Regions from separate parts of the Homo sapiens genome. Here regions 1 and 2 are each linked to region 3. The links come from fine-mapping of genetic effects on gene expression. A gene starts in region 3. Each other region holds a variant in brackets. All regions are shown on one strand. Distances are between the middles of the regions. Region 1 has its middle 170 kb from the start of LINC02967. Region 2 overlaps ACSS1 (acyl-CoA synthetase short chain family member 1). Region 3 holds the start of APMAP (adipocyte plasma membrane associated protein).

The links. PIP is the estimated chance that this variant, and not a neighbour inherited with it, causes the effect.
Region 1: its variant is fine-mapped to the expression of APMAP in esophagus mucosa (GTEx, PIP above 0.99).
Region 2: its variant is fine-mapped to the expression of APMAP in whole blood (TOPMed, PIP above 0.99).

The regions. Positions count from the first base shown.
Region 1 is chr20:24,741,839-24,749,201 of GRCh38, reverse strand. No RefSeq gene overlaps it. Among named protein-coding and RNA genes, the nearest start is that of LINC02967, 170 kb to the left of the region's middle. RefSeq lists enhancers at 1,174-1,673, 1,674-2,175, 5,905-6,805. The variant C/T (reference allele first, on the strand shown) is at 2,926.
Region 2 is chr20:25,041,674-25,049,036 of GRCh38, reverse strand. ACSS1 (acyl-CoA synthetase short chain family member 1) reads left to right here. Exons shown (of 14, transcript NM_032501.4): 2 at 856-952. Among named protein-coding and RNA genes, the nearest start is that of ACSS1, 13 kb to the left of the region's middle. RefSeq lists an enhancer at 5,652-5,801 and a silencer at 5,952-6,011. The variant G/A (reference allele first, on the strand shown) is at 3,509.
Region 3 is chr20:24,988,967-24,996,329 of GRCh38, reverse strand. It overlaps APMAP (adipocyte plasma membrane associated protein), which reads left to right and starts at 3,579. Exons shown (of 9, transcript NM_020531.3): 1 at 3,579-3,736. The coding sequence starts at 3,642. RefSeq lists enhancers at 3,025-3,525, 3,438-3,677, 3,808-3,887, 3,908-3,967, 3,526-4,026 and 1 more.

The DNA.
Region 1 (7,363 bases), 250 kb after region 3:
GTTGATAATCGTTTCTCCTGCTTTGATTGTCTTTCTCAGGCTCCTAATTTCTTTATATTAGATTTCCTTTGTCTATCTTTCATATTTGCCACTTTCTCTCAGTCTTTTCATCTCTGGACTCGTGTTTTTCAGTTTTTACAAATTTCCTCTTTTTGCCTTCTATTTTTCTATGGCATTATCCCTTGTGTGTATTTGGTGTTATGTTCCTTTCATTTTAATCATTACCTCTGCAATAATTTTCTTTTATTTCAAATTCTCTAGAGTTTTGTTACCTTATTTATGAATTCTCCCAAAGTCATTTAAGAGTGTTCATGTCATGTGGTGTTCCTAATGTCTTTTAGTTTATATTGAAATAATAGATGATAGCTCTGATTTTTGTGGTCCCATTTGTCAGGCAAGTTTTGATTGTTAGTAGGAAAGGTTTTCTGCTGCTTCGTCTCTTTTTCTTGTGTTAATTTTGTATTTTGTGTCGTATTGAACCTCAATGCACTTCTGTTGCTCAATTTTTATGTGAAATGGTTTTCCTGATATTTTAGAAGGAGACTGATTGCAGGGGAGGATTTTTAACTCTGCAGAGCTCTCTCTTCCGCACTTTCCTTGTAGTATTAAGAACAGGGTGGTCTGCCCTCTGAGGTGTCCTGGGTGGGTTCCCCTCCCCACTTCAGGTTTGATATGGGGATCTTGCTCAATTTTGATTTTTCTCACCCAATCTCTCCTCAGTGTGGGCTCTGTCCTGGCTGGGAGCCCAGACAGGCCAGTTTGAAGGATCCACGGCCCAGCAGGCTCACACTTGTACTTGCTGAAGCATTAGACAAATGCTAGGCTTCAACTGCTGTTTCCAAATCACCCCCATGCCCTCTGCCTTTTGGAGGCTCTGTTTCCAGGTGCGAGGGTTGTCTCCTGTTTCCTTCTGCTGCTCCCACACTATCTGGTTGGGGGCTCGTGGGTGTTTGTCCCACCCACTTGAATGTTGGGTTGCTGTCCACGAGTTTTGGATTTCACTGTCAAGTTGTTCTGGGCATTAAGGCTTCCATAGCAACATGACACAGGCCTGGTAGCAAAAGCAACAGAAATCTATTGTGTCACAGTTCTGGAGGCTCAAGTCCCAGGTCCAGGTGTGGGCAGGGCTGGTTTCTCATGAGGACTCTCTCCTTGGCTTGCTGCACCTCCCGTGGCCTTCCCTCTGTGCATGCACATCTGAGTATCTCTCTGTGCCCAAAGTTCCTCTTCTTATGAGGACATCAACAAGGTGGATTAGGACCCACTCTAATGACCCCACATTAAGTCAATCACCACTTTAAAGGCTCTATTTCCAAATACAGAGCCCATTCTGAGGTACTGGGAATTAGGGCTTAAACATATGAATGTTGCAGGGAGGCCATTCAGCCCATAGCATGCCATCTATTTTTAGGGGGAGGTTTAGGGAGGGTAAGCACTCTGTCACTGCTGCCACTTTTTCCCAGAATTTCCCTTTCTTGTACCCGAGTGAGCCAGAGAAGGGACACTCACCACCCCCGGATGTGGGTCCCTTTGTAGCACCTGCCCTTAACAGCTGGAGTGCCTGACGTTGCAGAGCTGCCTGCTGCACTAAAGCACAGACCCTCTGCAGCAGGGACTCTGCCTGTCCCGTTGTCACTGCATCCACAGCAGCAGTAGCTGGTTCATGGCAGGTGCTCAACACATTGCCAAGGAGTAAACACGCAGCGGGAGTGCGTGCAGAGCAACGAACACAGCCTGAGAGATAGGAGCCGTGTGTTCAAGTCCAGCTCTGCCCGGACCCTGGTTTGTGCCTTTGAGTGAATCACCTGAAGTCTTTTCCCACCACCTGTGATGGCTGAGGGGATCAGGTTGGTCATATTCCTTACCTCTGGGCTCATGTTCCTTACCTCAGTGTGGGCATATGTGCATGCTGCCTGAAGAGGGACTGCTGAAGTAGCACAGTCCACAAAGTAGAAATCTCTTGTTTTACTTTCTCTGCAATTAAAAGTGACAGCAGGAGTCAGCAGCATCCAGAAGGGTCAGAGGTCACTGCTTCTTACCAGCATCAACAGCTTCTGACAAGGGCACTGCCTTACTCTCAGGCCACTGACTGGAAAAGAGGCCTTGGCTGTGATAAGGGCTCTGGGAGTGTTTTAGAGAAATACAGTTTTCAGGAAAGAACGGAGCTCTTGTAAGACACAGATCCTAGGGAGGCAGCTGAGGACTAAAATCATTGACTAGAAAGATGAGAGAAAGAGGGCTGGTCTTTTCCACACCATTTATTTGATTCTTGCTTGCACCCACCATTTATTTATCACCGCAGCTGTTTTCTGGCCCTCGCCACATACATGTGTGGTTGCCCTCACATCTCCATCTGTGAAATTTATCCACGACCTTATTAAAAAGAAACTTAAATCAGGATCAACAAATTTCAGTTCATTTTAATGCTAATTTGTTAAAAAGAAAGGGAATCTTAGCTGTGGCTACGTTGGGAGTTGAGTCCGAGAGCTTGGACCCGGAGTTCAACGGTGAGGTGTTCAGAGCCGTGGCCATGGCCTGCAGAGCCCTGCTCTGGAGCACAACCTCCCCGGGACTGTGCAGGTGGGAGAAGGAGCAAGGCGGAGTTTCCTCGCCCTCCTGCGGTTTGGCCCTGGGCCAGGGTCTGCAATGCAGGTTGGGGAATCCTCACTGCCCAGGAGCCCTGAACAAAAGGAACCTGGGAGGCTGGGGCGTGGCACGGGCTGGCATGGGAAAAGCGCTGAGTCAGACTGTGGAATACGCCTTAGCCAACGCCCCCGGTGAGGAGGCCTGGAGGGAGGTGCCTGGGTGAGGACTGCAGATGCCTACAGGATCGTGGCTGAGTCCTTGACTCCCTGCAGAGACTTCCTGGCATGGGCTTGGCACAGGTCTGGGGGGGGGGAAGGCAGCTTTCCCTGTTGGGCCTGC[C/T]GGGCAAAGGCTTGTCAGTGCCTGGGGCCCCCTCCTGAAGGATCACACGTAGGACTGTGGCTGGGAGTGGCCTCCTCAGTCTCCACCCCAGCCTTGGGCCCGATGACTGTGGCTAGTGCACTGGAGGTAGACACCACCTGGCCCCCAAGAATGGCTGGTGAACCCTGACCTTCCCGTAAAGGACCACGTAGGCACGGTAGGACTGCAGGCTGCCTCTCTGTTGCCAAACACCATCTAGGAGGAGCTGGAGGGTTTCCATTCCCATCCGACTGTGGGACCGGTCTTCTTTGCTTCAGTTCCATGTTTCTCAGAGCTGTGACCCACGTCAGCAGTTTTGCCAGCTCTCCTGTAAAACTCTTGGTTTTGTTTTCCTTAGTCTTTAATCTCATGCCAGGGTCTCAAGCCTGGTGCACAATAGAATCACCGGGAGCCTTAAACGATATTGACAGCCAGGTCCCTGCCCTGGAGGTCCTGGAGTGAGTCTCTGCATGCATCCCCCAGGGGATTGGAACGTACAGCCAGGTGGTGCCACTGCCCCAAAGAAAAGGCACATTCGCCACCAGGTTTCAGAGCCAGCTCTAAAGGGGACTGAACACGTGTAAAAGTAGCCCTTTCTGGGGATTTGAGGCATAAACCAGTTGTTTCCTTGGCCAAGAGCAGGGTGAAAACCAGGAGGAATATGCACTGAATAGGACTTGCTAAGAGGCTTTGAAAACCTGGACAGGCTCTTCAGGATCTCCGGACGTCCTGTGTATCCCACCCACAGGGCCTGGCATGCGCTTGGCTGGCACCAAGTTCTTCATAATGAGAGGCAAATGGTTAGAAAGATAAAGCAAAATAAGCTTGCAAAGAAAAATAAAAGCAATGAAGAAACAAAGGTGGCCACGCTGGGGCCTTTGCAGATGCTGGAATAGCGGGCACTTTGGTTTAAAACAGCAATTTTTCAGCTTCAGTGCCCACAGAGTCTGCTGGAGGGCGTGTTCAGAGGCTGCAGTCCTCACCCCCAGAGATGCTGACTTCCTGAGTCCAGGGAGGGGTCTGACATCCTGCATTTCCAACAAGTTTTCAGACAATGTCAATGTTTCTGGGGGTCTTCGGGCAATGCGTTAACACTGGTCAAATGACCAAGATAAAGCAACTTCAGAGAAAATCAGTGAGAAAACAGAAAAGAAACAAAGGTACTTTTGGCTAAAACCCACCATATGGAATATTAGATTCCTTTGATTCTAATTCCCCTGCACCTGGGCCCTGATTGCAGCAGAAGTTTGCTATATTCAGGCATTGGCACTGGCTATGACTGAAACCCAGGGTTTCTGGGTGGGTCCCAGTATGCAAATTCAAGGCAATCTATAATTTTCTCTAATCTAGGAAGTGCTGTGCGAATGCTGCCTGCTTTCCTCCTGGCCAGAGCTGGTGCTTAAGGTCTGAGAACCTGGCAGCCTAGACTAAGGTCGCACCTGAGATTTCCCCAGATAAATGATCTCCTGCGCTGGTGTGGTCCTAGGCTGCCTTGGAGCTCACACAGCCCCATGGCGCTCAAGGATTGCAACCCACAGGGATTCATCAAATGCTTAACTGTGGCCAACTTCAGTGTTCCCAACCTGTACCCTGGGCAAGACTCTTGGAGGAAATATTAGTAAGAATGGCCTGAAAAAGTCTGGAAAAGTTGTACATGGCATCATCGTCTTGCGGTTTAGCAATTTAAAGGCCCTGAGAAGTCCTGTAGTGAAGAAACTTGCTTAACATATGGAAATGGATGCCTTCCATAACTTGTTTGAGCATGAACCATGTTCTGAGCATTTCTTTTTTTCTTTTTTCTTTTTTTCTGAGACGGAGTCTCACTCTGTCACCCAGACTGGATTGCAGTGGCGTGATCTCGGCTCATTGCAAGCTCCGCCTCCCGGGTTCACGCCATTCTCCTGCCTTAGCCTCCCGAGTAGCTGGGACTACAGGCACCCGCCACCGCGCCTGGCTAATTTTTTGTATTTTTTAATAGAGACAGGGTTCCACCGTGTTAGCCGGAATGGTCTCGATCTCCTGACCTCATGATCCACTCGCCTCGGCCTCCCAAAGTGCTACTATTGGGATCTCAAGGAACTCACTCTTCATGAGATAGCAGTGTGGGAGATGTACACAGATCCCACAGCCCAGGAGGAGGGGAAAGAGGATATCGAGTCTTCCCGGTCTCAGAGAGCAGATCCTCAGTGTTCTGTGAGGCCCCACAGAGTCAAAGCCTCCTAGAGGACGCAGGCAGGCAAACAGGTGTCTCCTGGGTGAGGGACCCTGTCCGTGCCCAGTTCCCAAGACACACTTGCTCCCTTGTTATTCACAGACGCCCTCCTTTATCCACAGGGATTTAGACCTGCTTCTCTGTGGAGTATCAAAGATTCAAAATACCCACCATGTGGCCTCAACTCCGGGTCTTGTGGCTTGCTGCCTGGGAGAGTTGGCATTAAAACCAAATGAGGTAATGAGTTCAAAGCTGCATGGCTCAAAGCAAGCATCAGGATCACCTGGGAGCTTGTGGTCCACACAGAATCCCAGGCTTGCTCCAGACCTGCTGAGCCAGAACCTGTCCTGGAGTGAGACTCCCAGGAGTGTAGAGGCACATTCGAGTTTGAAAAGGCACTGTTTTGCAAGTAAATAGAAATTAAAATAAAAGTGATATGTTAAAGGGTTGATTCGCAATCCTGGCTGCACTTTGGAATCACCCAGGGAGCTTTAAAAATCCTCAACTGCCCTGCCCCCAATTCTAATTTAATTGGAATGGAAGTAATCTGGACTAGGGGAGTTTAAAAGCTCTGTGGGTGATTGTAATGTGCAGCAAACAGCTTTAAAGGTATTAGGGTCTTCAGCGCATAGAGGTGGTGGTGGGGGGGTGGTGTCCCAGTACCTGGTATGGTGCCTGGCCTGTGGCGGGCACAAAACTGTTCATGGAAGAACCACCTCACTGCTGCATGGAGTGCATTCGAGGACTCTGAATCACATGGAGGATGGGCAGGAGGTCCCGCTGAGATCTGGATGGATGGAGGACAGAGAAACATGCAGAAACACTTCATCCCACTGTGAGAGTGTGGTCCAATGCCAGGGTCCCAGTGGTGGAGGCAGCCTGATGGTCACACTGCCTTTCAGGTGGCCTCCTGGTCTCCAGCAGCCCATGGCATGCACAGCCCACCCTGCGATGCTGAACTGGTGGGTGCGGTGGAGCCAAGGCCATTGTAATAGGTGGTTATTATTTTGAGTTTTTTTTTTTAAATCTGATAGACTGTAACCCAGTTATAGATGAATGAGAGGCCATGGTTTCAGGACAGGATACCAAGCGCCATCAGGTCTACAAGGAGCCACCTGTGCCCTGTGAAGGGTGTGAGCACCATCAGGTCCACAAGCAGCCACCTGTGCCCTTTGAAGGGTGGGAGCGGAATGCCTTGGAGTTCTCAGGAACAGGGGACCCCTCCTCCAAGGTGGCTGCTTCTAGGAACACTCTCCACGCTGTGCTGTGTGTCTGTGTGAGCTGATGGGCTGGGGGCATGGGTGGGGCAGGCAGCTGGAGATAGAGCCCTGGGCAGGTCTTGCCACAGGCTGCCTACCCATCCCCAGCTCTCAGGCCTGAGTGACTTTTTAAAAGTAAAAGGACAGCAGCCACAGACACCTTGCGATGGGCCATCAGCCTTCAGCCAGCCTCGGAGGCTGCAGCAGCAGAACTGGGAAGCGGAAGGGGTGAGCGACTCCACCTCGGGGCAGGGTGCCCTGCCAAAGTCTCCCTCTGAGAAGCGCCTTCAAGTGCCTTCTCTTTGATAAAAGACTATAAGGTTGGCAGAAAACCAAAATACATTTTCTCCTTCAAATACGTCTGAGGCTCATGGCCAATAAGTCCCAGGTCCCTGTCAGGCTGGTGAGCATGTGCATGGAACTGGCTGTGGTCAGGGCTGGGGAGGCAAGGCCCCTCGGTGGGTGCATGGAGCCCACCCTTCCAACTTGCTGCCCTGCGATGGCAGCCCCTGCTGTGCCTGGAGGAAGGTCATCCCAGGAAGCTGCCATGGGAAAGGGCTGGGAGGGGCAGACGTGGGGTCTGAGGGGACGCTGGTGATTGACTCCTAGCCACAGATGCTGTTGGCATCTTGCTTCCTGGAGACTGAGGGTTCTGATCTTGCCGAGCCAACCCCTTGCTGGTGCCCTCTTGACCTCCTCCTCTGGGCAAGTCCAGGCTGGGGCCGCAGGCTGCTCACCCTCTGCAGGTGAAGGCTACCCTCTCTTATTGATGTCATTCCCCAAATGTTGTCCTTTCTCTGCTCTTTTCAGAAATGGAGAGGCTGGGGTTGCCGATGGGGCAAAGAGGAGACAAAACAGGTGGAGAGAGACGCCCGGGCCTGCCAACCATGAGGTAAAGAGGCTGGAACCGCACAGCTCCTGCCTGGGTGCCTCGGTGGGATCTGTGTCC
Region 2 (7,363 bases), 53 kb before region 3:
GGGTGGGTGCTGCTGCCCCCAAAACCATTCATGGGGCTCATGTCCCTGCATACCTGGGGACCCTCCGATAAGCCAGTGAGTGAGGAGAGCTGGCTTGAGGGTTGCCAGAAGGGGCTCAGCTTTGGAATCTAATGAGTAGTGACCAGCCTGCCAGCGGAGGGGCCCCGTGCTGCTAATCCTCAGTCTCACGGTGTGCCACAGAGCTGTTTCTGCCGGAGGGTCATGTGTGGGAGCTTGGGTAATGGAGAGGGAGGGAGCAGAGCCTTCTGCAAAACCAGGACATTTCCCCATCACGAGCCACTTCTTGGAACAAGGCTGGTTTACTGGGTGCTCGTGGAACACGTGGGGGAGTTGGGTCCTCGTCCCTTCTTGCACCTTTAACCTTGGGGGCAGGTCAGCACTGGGCACATGGGAACTGCAGGAGCCAAGCCCTGAAACAGGAACAACCTGTTTGCACTGAGTGTTCTTTCCAACAGCTTAGGCTGCAGTGCCCAGCCCTGGCTGCACATCAGAACCAACCATGGGGGCTTTGAGGCTTTGAAGGCCCAGGACCCATTGGATGGGGTCTCTAGGGGTGGCCCAGGAGATGCCAATATGCAGCCAGGGTTGGGTCCACTGGTGTGAAGCAACCACTTCAAAATATTTGCAGGACATCACCTTGTACCTCTGAGATCATGTTTGTTCACCCTTCTCCTTGCAAGGGGGTAGAAACATCATCACTGATGAGGACAGGGTCTCTGTCAGTGGAAGAAGAGAGAGCCACAGCAAACTAGACCCGCTCCAACCCCTCAACCTGGCCGAATTCTCACTCAAAAAGCACCAAGTGTAACATCCGCAAACCCTCTTTTTGTACAGTCAACTGCTTGGACCAGCATGTTCGGAAGTCCCCCGAGAGCGTTGCTTTGATCTGGGAGCGCGATGAGCCTGGAACGGAAGTGAGGATCACCTACAGGTACTGTGCCCTCGAATGTTCAAGGTGCGAGGGAGGCGCCCAGCCCAGTCCTGTGTGCTGAGTCTGGCTGTCAGGGAGGGGCCGTCTGAGTCTCAGGGAGTGCATTTTGGCTTTGCAAGTGCTCTCTTATCCAGGAAAAGTAAATGTGAACGCAAGCAGAATGAAACACAGTAAAAGCCGGTCTAGCCTGCCTGGCCACACTCTCAGCGCCTTGTGAGGATGGGACAATAAATAAAATCATCTTTAGTAGAGTTGTTTTGTTTTTAAGCTGATCTTTTTAGTCTCTGATTCCTTAAGCAGATTCTATGTGCCAAGCATGCTTCAGATGCTGTGTGCTTTGGGCGGTCTGCACTGGCCTTCCCCAAGCTGCTTCCTGTAGGGGCTGCTGTGTTGGTGCAGCACCTTGGTTCTCCATGCAAACCCCGTTTGCCTGAAGCTCACCTTACCCTTACAGAGATGCCTCAGGCCCACTGTGCCCCTAAACTGTGAGTTCCTAAGTCCCCATCACACACAATCATCGAGCGTGATTACTCTCCTGGGGGCAGCTCCAGGGTCTTCTTGTCCAATTACTTAGCAAGTCTTCACTGGGTGCCTTCGTGTCAGTATGGGCTGCAGTATGTTGCAGTAACAGACAATCCCCAAGCACATGGCAGAGTGTGGCTGGGTGGCCACTGTGAGCTAATAGTCAGGAAGGCCTCTTGGAGGAGGCAACATTCCAGCTGAGGTCCTGTGGGCCAAGAGGAGCAGCCCTGAGAAGACAGGGGCAGACCTGGTGCAGGGATCCCAGAGGTAGAGGGAAGGTGCATGTGGCTGGGACACAGGAGCGAGGGGACGTGGAGGAGGAGCATTCCGACAGGCAGGTCCACACTGGGCAGCCTGAGAGCAGCGGTCACTGCCCTGCCACTCGGGTGACCTGGGGGCGAAGGGGCACTTGTAGTTTCCTGTTTGTTTCTTGAACTCCAATTTTATCACAGACCAAATTCACCAAACCTGCTAAAACCGTGCTCATGCTGACTTTTGGAGGCAGACGAGTGATGCTAGTGGATCTGCTGCGGCTCCCAGTGGGCCCTGTCCTGCTCGTTCCTCCCCTCGGCCCCCAGGAGCCCTCAGGCCCATCACAGCTCCACCAGCCTCGGCCAGGGCTCCTTTGCTGACCCGTCTCCCCCACCAGCCAGACTCACAGCCTATACAGCACGCATTTCTTATCTCTAGTCCCTGGTTGCAGATGCCGTGTGGCCCATAGGCCAGCAGCATTCTTCTGCCCTGGATCCTCGGGCCCCACTGGACAACTGAGCGGCCCCCCAGGTGGCCCCTGCACACTGGAGTGTGCTTGGCTCTGAAGACCCAAGCTGCTGCAGCTGCCCCTCGCCACGGTGGGCCCAGCTCCATCTGCCTGCGAACAAAGCCCCTTCTGAGAAGGAACTTGAGGCTGCTGCCCCTGGAGTAGTTCTTCAGTAAAAGATGAAAACCCTCTGTTGGGGGTCGGGGGCTAAGGAGCTAACTGGACACCTGGAGGTCCGGCAGGGAGGGCCCAGCCATGGCACTCCCCGAAGGGCCAGTTTCTCTCCATCAGTCTCTCAGGTGTGCCTGGACCCTGGGGCAGGCAGGTTGTGTGCCACGCCCCCTCGGCTGGACGCTGCCCGTGGGAGCACTGAGTGTGTGCTAAGTAGCGGTTCGGTCTGTGAGCGGGGCTGGAGCCCTGTGGAGACGTGTGGTTAAACATAAACCATGTGAGAATTCTCAGGACCACAGCCAGCCTGTGGAAGCTAAGGACAGCTTCAGGTCCATGACACTGAAATGGCCCTGGCAAAGTACTTATTACTCTGTCTCTAAAAATAAACAGGGGCCGGTCGCAGTGGCTCATGCCGGTAATCCCAGCACTTTGGGATGGTGAGGATCACTTGAGGACGGTGGGTGGATCGCTTGAGGTCAGGAGTTTGAGACCAACCTGGCCAACATGGTGAAACCCCGTCTCTACTAAAAATACAAAAATTAGTTGGGTGTGGTGATGTGCGCCTGTAGTCCCAGCTACTTGGGAGGCTGAAGCAGGAGAACTGCTTGAAACTGGGAGGTGGATGTTGCAGTGAGCCAAGATTGTGCCACTGCACTCCATCCTGGGTGACAGAGTCAGACTCCATCTCAAAAATAAAAATAAAAATAAAAATAAATTGACTTCTTCTAAAATGGTTTGCAGACTTTAGCCAGGCTTAGTACCAGGTGACCATTTCTATTTACTGTTTGAGTGAAAAGTGTTACCTGTAATTGCAGCTAGTATTTGAGGGATGTGAGTTCCTCATTGTCCTGGTCAGGCTAGGTTTCTGATGTGAGGTTTTCTTCTTCCTTTCTCTGAGGAAAGCCCCTAGACATTGGCACTGGTTGTCCTCCTGACAGACACATCACTGCCACTGAACACAGTGCTTTTCTGCCCATGGGCCTCGTGCCACAGCACTCGAGGTGCCTAGGATGGTTGCAGGCCTCCTCAGCTGGAAGATCAATGTCCAGACTAGCAGCCTGGGCCCTTTAAAGAAACCCCGTGGGGCTGGTAGAGGTTGGGAC[G/A]CTGGTGCCGATGCAGGAAGCTTGCAGGGTGTGAGGAAGTCTGTGTGTTACAATCCCAGGTGACCTGGCAAGGGAAACCTCCCGACTCTGGTCCCCACCGTGACCTTAGGCACAGGTGACGCTGGGTCAGCACAGGCAGATGCAGCCCTGGGACGGGTGCCCATGGCCTTTACCCTGCAAGTGGAGGATTTGCAATCCCTGCTTCCCCAGGTCCTCTGGGGTGCAGGGTCAGCAGAAAGAGGCCCGTTCTAGTTCTAGTTCAGTACCATCCTGCTGCTGGCCTGTGACCTTGTGCAGCTCCCTAATCTCCCCGGGTGTGACTTTCCCATCTGTACACCCAGGGTAATTATCACAATGGAGATGACTGTAAAGTAGGCACAGGGAGATGACAGCCCGAACGCACTAGCAAGTAAGAATAGCCGTGATAATGATGTAGCTGCTATTTATTGAGTACTCACTGGATTCTAGAGCTGTTTTCAGCATTGTAACTGGGCAGCGAGGTTGGACCTCGTGCTGGCTGGCTGCAGGGCTTGGAGAGGAGGACCCCCTCCCCTGCCGCGGTTTTGCCCCGCTTCCTCCTTCACAAATGCAGTCCTCAATTCCCACTGGGAGGTGAAGGGCTCAGCCTGGGACGTGTGCACCCATCTCCCAGGGCAGTCTGCCACCCGACTCCAGGGTCCCAGCTCCATTTCCAGCCTTCCTCTGCCCGGAGCCAGCTGAGGCAGCCCTTCTCCCCTGGTGAGCCAGCAGGCTGAAAGCCCAGAGCAGGACAGTGCCTGCCAGAGGCTGTAGGCCTAGTGGCCCCAAGGCTGTGGGGCCAGGCAGCACTCTGGGACGGCAGTGGCTCTTTCTGGCTGTTTACCTGCACTTCTCCAGCAGGTGCCCATTTTATTTTATTTTTAATTATTGATTTTTGAGGCAGGGGCTCAAAAATGTCACCCAGGCTGGAGTGTAGTGGTACTGTCACAACTCACTGTAGCCTTGACCTCCCGGGCTCAAGTGATTCTCCTGCCTCAGCCTCCCAATAGCTTGGTGTGTGCCACCAAGCCTAAGCTTTTTATTTTTTGTAGAGATGGAGTCTCGCTATGCTGCCCAGGTTGGTCTGGAACTCCTGGGTTGGAGTGACTGCCCACCTTGGCCTCCCAAGTACTGGGATTGCAGGTGTGAGCCACCGCGCCTGGCCGGTGCCTGTTTTAGAAGACTGTCCTTCACACTGTAGTTCACATGGGCAGGTTCTAGAGACCCTGGGGGGTGGCCATGTGGAGAAATGCAAGTTCCTCTCTTTCGGAAAAGCGGTGGCCCAGGTAGATGAATGAGGCTTTGAGATGGCTGCTGCCTAGCTGGTGTGTTTCTCCCTGCCTGGAGCCTGGAGCCTGGGGTCTGGGCCAGGAATTCCCAGGCTAGGGTTGGACTCCAGGTGCAGGAAGCAGCCTGAGGCCCTGTGCAGGTCCAGATCTTCTCAGCCAGCAGGGTATGCCCCCACACAGAGGAGAGAGTGGACTGTGGGTGCCAGGCTGGGGGTGCCTGCAGAGCCTCCAAATCAGTGAACCTCTTCTCTGAGGGTCTCTGTAGGGGGGTGTGAACTTAAACTTGAACTTAAATGAGAGCATCTTAAGCCAGAGGACCAAGTTTTAGCTCCGGCTTGTCCTATGGCCTTGGACCCATCCCTCTGGGCTTTGGTGTCCTCATCTGTAAAAGGAGGGATTCAATGGCCCCAGTATTCCAGCCCTGGCAGGCGTGCATGAAGCACGGAGGAGCAGAGCTGGGCCCCGAGTCTGTGAGGAAGCACAGGCATCGTGTGCCACTCTGGGAGCTGTTCCCCCGTGGAAACTCCTGCTGGTGGGGGTGATTTCTGTGGCTGTTCCTTCCTGGCCTTTTTATTGGGTGGGGTCGTGCACAGTGAGAAACCCCTGACCAGAGAAGCAGAGGGGATGTCAGGCCTCCCCCAACCCCACCTACCTCAGAGTCCCAGGAAGCTGAGGGAGGTTTTCTCCCTGGGTGTGCTGTGCTGGGCTGGGCATGGGGCTTTACTGCGAATCTGTGAGGCCTGGCACCTGATGCGGAGGCCTGCAGGGCTGTGCATGACAGGGCCTGGCCGTTCACCCTAGGCAGAGGGAGCTGCCACACACTCCAGCTGTGGTGGGGTGGGGACTGAGCCTGGGGCCACCTCTCTGAGAGGCTTGTTTCTGTTGTCAGCCCTGGATGTCTTCGAACACAGCCATTTAGGGAGGTCACAGAAGTGGCTGGTCCCTTGGGGGGAGCAGGAAGCAGGAAGTCCTGTCACAGACACTTAGGTGGAGAAGGCTTTGTGGAGGGTTGAGTTTTGAGAGGCAGAGGAAGGGGAAGTGTGGCGAAGGCAGGAGTGGGGGACTGGTGAGGACATGGCACGGGGAGGAGCCAGGGTCTGGGAAGTGGTGGAGGCGGGAGGCTGTGCCCTGCCTGCCCTGTCCCTGGCAGGGGGAGGGGCCAGGGCCCAGGACCTGGTGGAGGCAGGAGGCTGTGCTCTGCCCAGCCTGACCCTGGCTGTGGACCTAGAGCCTGTCACTCCACCTCTCCCACCCTTGGTTTTCTCATTTGCAAAATGCAGTCACACTTCTCCTCCACTGGGCTGCTGGGCGTGGAGAGGGGCATGTGGGATGAAAACCAGAGGGGTGTCTGGAGGATGAGGGTCCGTTTCAGCTGCAGGTCAGGGCCAGGTGAAGGAAGGCCAGCAAAGGGTTTCAGATTTGAAGAAGGGCAGGACATGGGTGGCCCCATGGCTGCTGGGGCCGAGAGTGGGTGGGTGGTGATTTCAGGGGTGACGGTACTCAGCGGGACTTTGCCTGGGAGGACACGTACATCAGCTAAAGTGTGCCCCCTCCCCATGTCCCTAGTGGGTGACCCTTGCCCCTTGCTCTTCTGCTCACCTCCCAAGTTAATTACCCTAGTGAGCACACTCCCTTATTAAAACATCAGGGCAGCTGGGGGAGGATCCTAACTCACGGGAGGCTGTGGGGGAACAGCCTCGTTGACCCGTGTGTGACACAGCGGCTGTCGTGGAAGGCAAACTCGGTGTGGTCTGTGGGGCTCCCATGGTGGGGTGAGGCGTGGAGTCCCGGCCTAGCTGCCCCACCTGAGAGGAGGGTGCCCGGGCAGCCTCTGAGACTTGGGCTGGGACCCTTGGTCTGGAATCTGCACGCTACAGCCAGAATCTGATAGGATCCCATGTTACTCGGGGTGGGCTGTTTTTGAAGCAGCATCCACCTTTCCTCCAGCCCCAGGCTGCGGCTGCTGCCACTGGAATATTTGGGGTCTTCCTACGCACGCTGCCTGTGCTCCCTTGCGTTCTCCTGGGTGCCGAGGTCCTGGCACGTCGTAGTTTAGAGAGGCCCCATCTTCAGACTGCAGCACAGTGACCCACACTGAGGGAGTTTATGTCCACAGAGACCTCTTTGTTGGGGACAGGACCTTTCTGAGAATTCTCTGGGGCGACCACAGGCAATTCTAGGCCAGCGGGTGGGTTGTGGAACCTGACTGGGCTGACACCTGGGCTCCACAACCCACTGTTAGGGCAGGAGGATCCCACCTGTACCTTCTTGGATCCCAGGCCACTCGAATGGAGTCTGGCGTCCTTCCTCCTCATGCAGGTGACCAAACCCTCAAAGTCACTCCAGTGTGCAAAGGCCTTTGGCCACCACAGCTGTTCAAAATCTGCTGTAACTAACAGGCTCTGGTCTTCACCCTGATGTATTTATTCCACCCACGGTGGCCCATCTCATGTGGATTCCCAGTAGGCCAGCCCGTTTTCAACAAGAACAGTCTTCTATCTTCACATTAGAAACCCATTAGATTTTTGGACTTCACAACTAAATTGTG
Region 3 (7,363 bases):
GCTCTCCAGGGGAGGGCAACAAAAGAGAAAGGGCCAGCCCAGCAGGGCGTGCCATGTGAGCACGGAGGGGTGCAGAGACAGGACAGTGTGAGGCACCAGGAGGCAGAGGGTGACTCTGCCCCTGTGTTCCCAGGTCTTTGTTCCAGTCCCTGTGAGGCCTGGCTGTACTTTCTGAGCCTGAGTTCCATAAGGTATCCCCAGATCCTTCCAATGCATCCCTCCCTCATTCTCCGCCAGCTTTGGTGGATGTCTGTTTCTGGTAGCTGCATGGTCTCTAAGGTGCTTTTCCTGCGGTGAACAAACTAGTGTACATTGCCTAAGTTTACTGTCTCCACTGTCCCACCTGAATTAAAACTGGAGCTTCCCACCACGACATCCCACCACGACAGAACAACTTCCCTTGCAGCCCTTTTCCGAGTTGGCAGCGCCTTCTGTGCTTTCCTGGACTTGTGGGGAAGAAGGGGTTCAGCTACTTCCTGCTCTGCTTTGCCCTTTTCAGACTATTCTTTCTTTGCTAAAAATATTTATTTTTATTTTTTGTTTTTGTGGGTACATAACAGGCGTATATATTTGTGGCTATTCTTTCTGATCACTCAGTAACCCTGATGTCCATCCCTGATCATCACCCCCTTGTTTAACAATCCCTGGGCACCCCACTCATCCCTCTTAGCCTGTTTCTTGTCCTTCTCTATCCCCCAACCTCCCCCTCCCCCCGCCATTATAATCTTATTTATCTAAGTCCTGGTGCAAAGCCCCTTCCTCCAAGAAGACATCTCTGGTCAGTCCCATCTAATAGCACTTGTTCCTCCTTGCAGCCCCAAGGTACCCTGCAGCTCTTCTGCAGCAGTGCTTTATAGTGTCGTTCGTTACGCTTCCTCTCTCCCCTCCAAGATGATAACGCCTGTGCAGGCTGGATCACTGTATTTCACCCTTGTTTTGTCACCGCACTTGGCATCTGGCAGGCTTTCAGGAGATCTCTGTGGAAGGAGTTGAAACAGCATGGGACTGGGAAAAAGCACTGGACTAGAAGTAGGGTTTGCTTCTGGTTTGAGCTGCGAGGCATACTGTGGGCTCCCTGCCAGCATCATGCGCTTCTTCTTCCATGCTGGCAGAGCCTGCTTTTGTTGAGATAAATGCCCTCCACGTGGGCCAGTGTTCCGATGGAAGTGAGCCTCATCCCCAGTGCCAGGGTTGGGTGTGGGTTTTGGTTGGTCTCACTCAGCGCTTCTCAACCAAGGGCTGTTTTGTCCTCCAGGGGCTATCTGTCAATGTCTGGCAACATTTTTTATCATCACGACTAGGTGGGATGCTACTGCCATCTAGTGGGGGAAGCCCAGGGATGCTGCTGAAACACCAGCGCACAGGAGAGGCCCCCCTCCGCCTCCTAACAGAATTATCTGGCCCAAAATATCAGTGGTGCTGAGAAACCTGATCAAATTAATCATAGTGGTCCCATTCCTCTGCCAACAACTGGCATCAGCACGATGAGAAACAAAGTCGGTCTGGTTGGAAGGTGGGGTGGGAGAACTGATAACTGAAACAAATACAACAAGCAAAGCGTGCTTCACCGTGACTTGAAAACAGAAAAACTGTACTGAACCCGTGCTATGCAGCACAAATGATCTAGCTCAGACCACTGTAACACCAACTACCTACGTGCTTCATGATAAGCCCACGAGCTGACCTCCTGATAACTCCGAATGGACTTACATGTCCCAGAGCTAAGGCCACGGTTCCTCCAGTGACTCCCGTTGTTAACGGATTCTGACCAACCCTGGGCAAGACTATCGATGGACTAACTCCAGCCCCCAAACCCCACAAGGAGTCTCCCATGACTCCCCCATTTTGAGGAACCTCACCGGTCCTCTGGTGCATTTCTTTGCTGCAGCAAGTTCAGTAAACCCAACTTACTGCCATTATTTTTCTTCTGAATGTGTCCCTGGGTGTTTGCAGTGCGTGGGCTTTAACACTGGGCATGGAACACAAATAGCTCCAATGCAGTGAGTTCAATGTTATGGCTGGGACATGTTTAAAGTGCCTTGAAGACAAAGAGGAAGATGTTCTGCTTGGGAAACTGGGAGAAGAATTTTCAGCAAGGATACTTGAAGTGGGTCCTGAATGATAAAAATAATTGGCCAAGTGGAGGTGAAGGAGAGTGTATCACAGGAAGAAGGAACCTCAAGGACAAAGGCAGCCAGGCATGAGATTAGACATGTTAAGCCATCCTGAATGTCTGAAATGGGGGGTGGGGAGCAAGAGGGATAGTCCAGACAGGCAGGAAGGCGTGAGATCATACAGTACTTTGTTAACACTATCCCTGATTTAATAGCTGTATTGGCTATTCTCAATGACACAGAATGAAGTAAAATGTTGTCGAGGCCTGAATTATTACCTGGGATCTCTGGAGAACTGGATTTGCACAGCTCTCCACTTCCCTCAAGCTGGTTCTTCCGCTCTTTGAATGAATAAATAAAAAGCATTCACATGGAATTCTAGTGCCATCTAGCATTTAAAAAGGTAAAAGCCTCCAAGAGGAAATTATTTCTTAACACTGCATTTTGAACATGGCTTTTCCAGAGATAATTCCTCGTGCCACTGGTAACGGGCTTTGATTTCTTCTGCCTGTCACTTCCTCCAGATTCGATTCCTCTTTGAATCTCAAATGCTCTCACAAGATTCAGCTCTTCCCTTTTGAAGCAATTATTACGTTTGATAATTTTACGTCTATTTTATGATGATGATCTGATTAAAGTCATCTTTCCCACTAGTTTAATTTCTATAAGGAGGGGCCTTGTCTGTGATTTGCCCACCATCGTCTCCCAGCACCTGGGAACATTTCTGGTTTCCTGCAATACTGTTGAAAGAACAATGCCTCTCTATGCTTTCTTAAACTTTGTTAGTGATAATTTCTACTTCTACCTGGACTTTACTTAAGGGTAATCCTTAATAAACTTTATCAAAACTTAATAAACTTTATCAAAACTTAATAAACTTTATCAAATGTCTGTTGTAATCGTCACAAAAAGATTTAATACTCAACATCTGGCCTTAACCAGAGGGAAACATTTTCTAGCCCAAGTTTTCCCCTTAACCGGCTGAGTCGGGGAAGGATGTAATTTTCAGGCAGAGGTGACTTCGTTCCAAGGGTGTGAATGCATTATTTTTGACGCTGCCTGTAAGAGCAGGGTCGCTGACACTGAATAAACAGCGCTATCCTCTCCAACGATAAAAGTGGCCAACATCTCGTGCTAGCAATTCCCAAGTGCGTCATGAGCATCCCCGTCCTCAGAAACGTGAGACGAAGGCGGCATGCGCAGGCACTGGGCTAGACGAGCCCGAGGTTGAACCACTCGCGTTCTGGGCCCCGGAGTCCGAGACAGGCGGGGACCCCGGCAGCTCCCGGTGCTATCTCTGAGCGGGTTCCGAGCCCCACTTCCGGGCGGTCAGAATTAGCCTCAGAGCGCCGAGCAACGACGCGCCGGGGACCTCCCGCCCATGAGGCCGGAAGGGGCGGGGAGAACGCTGCGGAATGGTCCCTGGGCGCAACGTCATTTCCGCGTACGGGGGAGGGCGGGCCTGGAGTCTGAGCCGGCGCCGCTCAGTGTGAGGTGGTTTCTGCGGGTGAGGCTGGCGCCCGTACCATGAGCGAGGCGGACGGGCTGCGACAGCGCCGGCCCCTGCGGCCGCAGGTCGTCACAGACGATGATGGCCAGGCCCCGGAGGCTAAGGACGGCAGGTAGGGCGGACTCCCAGACTGGGCGCTGGAGCCGGGCCGCTAGGAGTGGAGGGCGACCCTCTTGGACAGCGGCGACGGCAGTAACAGTAACCTGGGGATGCGGTGCCGAGCGCGTTGTCAGAGTCCTCTCGTTTCATCCCCAAGAAAAACTCATTTTTCCGAGGAAGCAGGCTCCGACAAGGCGGATGTACCTGCCAGGTCTTTCAGGTTCGGGTGCACCCTGCGCCCAGTCGCCGCGTTGTCCTCGGCTCTCCGGACCCGAGACCGCCTCGCGCCGCTCCTTTGCCTTCCCTCCCTCACTCCTGCCCCACCCTGCATAGCGGTTGCTTCCTCGCCTTTCCCTCGCTCCCCTCGCGCTGTCCTTCCTTTGGCTTAAATGATCCCCCTGAGCACAGCTACTTGGCCGGGGCCCTGCGTGTTCCTGGTTCCCCGCTCGCAATTTCCCGAAGGGAGGAGGTCCCACGAGATGCTGGGGTCCTGCCTCGTTATCCGGCGAAGAGATGGCTTCTACACTTGCTCTTCTGCACCTGCCCCCCTCACGCTGCGTGACCAGTCCTCACCGCGGTTCTTGGAAAGAGTGGAGAACAGTAGTGACATTGTAGGCAATTTTTGTGAGAATTCAGCCTGGCAGTTTTTCCTGATAGGGATGGAGAAACATAGGAAACTGTAGTTGTTGACACCTAAGAAATATCAGGTTTTGCCCTTTGCCTCCTCTCCCATCTTTCAGAATATAAGAATGCTGTGTTTTGTTAGCTAAAAACTGAATCATGATTCGTAAGCATAGATTTCAATATAAGATACTTAAAATTCACTTTTCAATTCTGTGTCCTGAATTTCATAACTTTTAAGTTTCAGGGAGAATCAAGAGGCCCCATAGACCAAGCTTGAAGTTGTGGGACTGATTGACTTATATTTGATAGAAATACTGGAAATATTTGTTCATCAGTAGTGTGCCAAGAGGTGGTGGGGTACATATGAATGAGAGGCAGTTTTTGCCCCTGTAGACTGAGTTTATTGACTGATGATAAGAGGAACACATTTGAAGGAGAGCGATGGCAGGAAGGAGCATTTAGGCTCTAGAGAGGCAATTTAGAGAGAAGACTTTGCGGTGATAGTTGACTCCTTGGGCCAGTGAAAAGATCGGGAAGATGCTCCCATATATCCTGACCAACCATCCTGCGTTGCCCTGGACTGGGGTTTCCAAGGATGTAGAACTTTCAGTGCTAAACCTGGGCAAACTGGGACAATCTGATCACCCTACTTACTGTGAATATTGTGAATTAATCATCTGTTGATGATTGAGGAGCCATTTAGAATGGACATGCAAGAATTGGCAACACTTTCCTACAGAAATCTTGAAAACAAGGCATTTTTACCTGAGAAATGGAAGAGCAGTGGCCTGAGTTTGTCATTAGGTGCAGTGTGTTGAAAACCAGGGCCTACAGCCCCTGAGGGCACCGGTTAGGTAGTCCCAACTCTCAAGTTGGCTGGCTCACACTTCTGGCCCCAGGGCAAGCAGGCAGACTTAATTGTTTTTTTCAGGTTCTCTGTGGGGATTTCTTCCTTAATGAGTAAGTAAATCTGATTCTAAAGTCATCTTTTACTGCCTGATCTTTTCCAGTGTGCCTTTTACATTTATGTTTACTTATTTCCTTGACTTCCCTGTCCATGAACATTGTTCCTGTTTCCCTGTGTTTGTCCTTCTTGTTTGTTTATCCCTTTTCTGTATATCTGTAATGATCTCTTTCAAAGTGAGGTCTTGTCACCACCCTTCCTTTCCGCAATTATTATTGTAACATGGTAGCTGTTTTTCTTATTTTTCTTCTGCATTTCTCCTATATTTTTCATTTATTTTGTGGTCATTTCTAGTAGTTCATGTAATAGTATTCTTGATTACCTTAAAAGTCGAGGGTTCAACATAAGCCAGGAAAGCCTGTGTATAGTGGGCGAAGTAAAGGAATCTAAATTCAGAAGTAAAAACACGAAACTATTAGAATAAACTTTAGCACTTTAGATGTGCTAAATAGAATAAAGGAAGCCTTGAAAGACATATTACTAAACTGACAGAACTAAGACATAGATTTTAGCAGTGGTAGGGACCCCTAGTAATACGTTGGGTGGTCTCCCAACTCTTGGCACAAAAGGTGGGTGTTTGCTTTGTTTTGCTGATGAGATCATTGAGGTCTATGTGTGTGAGGTGGTTTATATGAAGTTACAGAGAATAGAGTCAAAAGAGAAATGAAAATGAATGAAGAAGGATAGAACTGGCAGCTGGACAATGACTGAGAAGTGTATTTTTAAAATTATGCTTTGGAAATAAGACTTTATGCCAAAGCTCTTGAATTACTGTATTTGAAATATAATGGAGAATTTGGTTGGTAAATTCTTTTATTCAGTGTGGAACATAGATGAGCTAAGTACTTTAACATACCGGTGCAAGCTTATAATTATTATTTGACATTGATTTCCCGAAATGCTTTAGAAACTTAATTGTACTCTGTGGAACTATTCCTTTCTGTTTGAAACACAGTTCTATCTAGGAAGAGAACTGTTTAATGTCCATATGTGACTGTTTAGGGATGCAGAATAAATACATTGAGGATTTAATATGTTTCAATACATTAAATTCTGTATAATTCTCCTTTTTCAATAAACTTCTGAAGGATTTTAGTTTAATTAAAAGTCTGCTAGGTCCATTTTCCTTTTTCCTCTTGGAGACTGAAGAGTAAGGGAGGAAGTATGGAGAAACAGATTGGGCATTCACGAATTCATGAGGAGTAAGGCAGCTGGAGTGTTTGTCTCAGCTTTGCCCCAGGTGTGTATTTTCAGATGGCTTTTTAAACTTGTTTCTTGATTTCTTAATTTTTTTCAAGGATAAATTGATGAATCTAGGAGCCCCAGTTTAAAGGATTGTGAAAAATGAACAAATTCAAGATGCTGTCACTAAAAAAGATGGGTTGATGCTATCTGATTTTCTCAGGTTCCAGGGATCACCTTGACACATGAGGTTGCTGGTACCCCATGGATTTGGGGCTATCAGGTTTTCCACAACAATCACAGGTGAATTTTGATCTCTTGGAGTCTGCTTGTTGGGACTTCAGTTCAGGACCCAAGGCCCTAATGTCCTGTGTGCAGAGTTAGAGGATACCCTTCAAAATCTGCCAAATTGGCTGGTGAATCTACAGAAGATTGTGTAAATCATGGCCCAGCCAACAGCAGTTGTCAAATCCTGTTGCATCACTGTGGTTGTGCTCTTGCCTTCAGAGAGTGTAGGCAATTTCAGGGTGCAGATGTCCTCATGGAGATGGGCATCCCTCCAGGCTCTTCCGAGAGATTGGGGCAAACAAACTGATTTCTCAAACTGCGCCTGGGAACTAAGTTGCCAGCGTTCCTGGATGTGTCAGCACAGGTTGGGAACCTGCAATGCTTTGTCAGTGAAAATGGATAGGGATCGATACAGTGTTCTTTATTTAAGTTAAAAAAAGAGTAAGAGGGAGGCAGACACCGAGAAAAGACAGAAGAATTGTGGTTAACTGTGAGTTTACAGGAAGCAACACTGATGAGGGCCTGCCGAAAAGTTAATGGACCTTGGGCTAAAATAAGTGTGGCACCCAGAGCAGGGGTCCA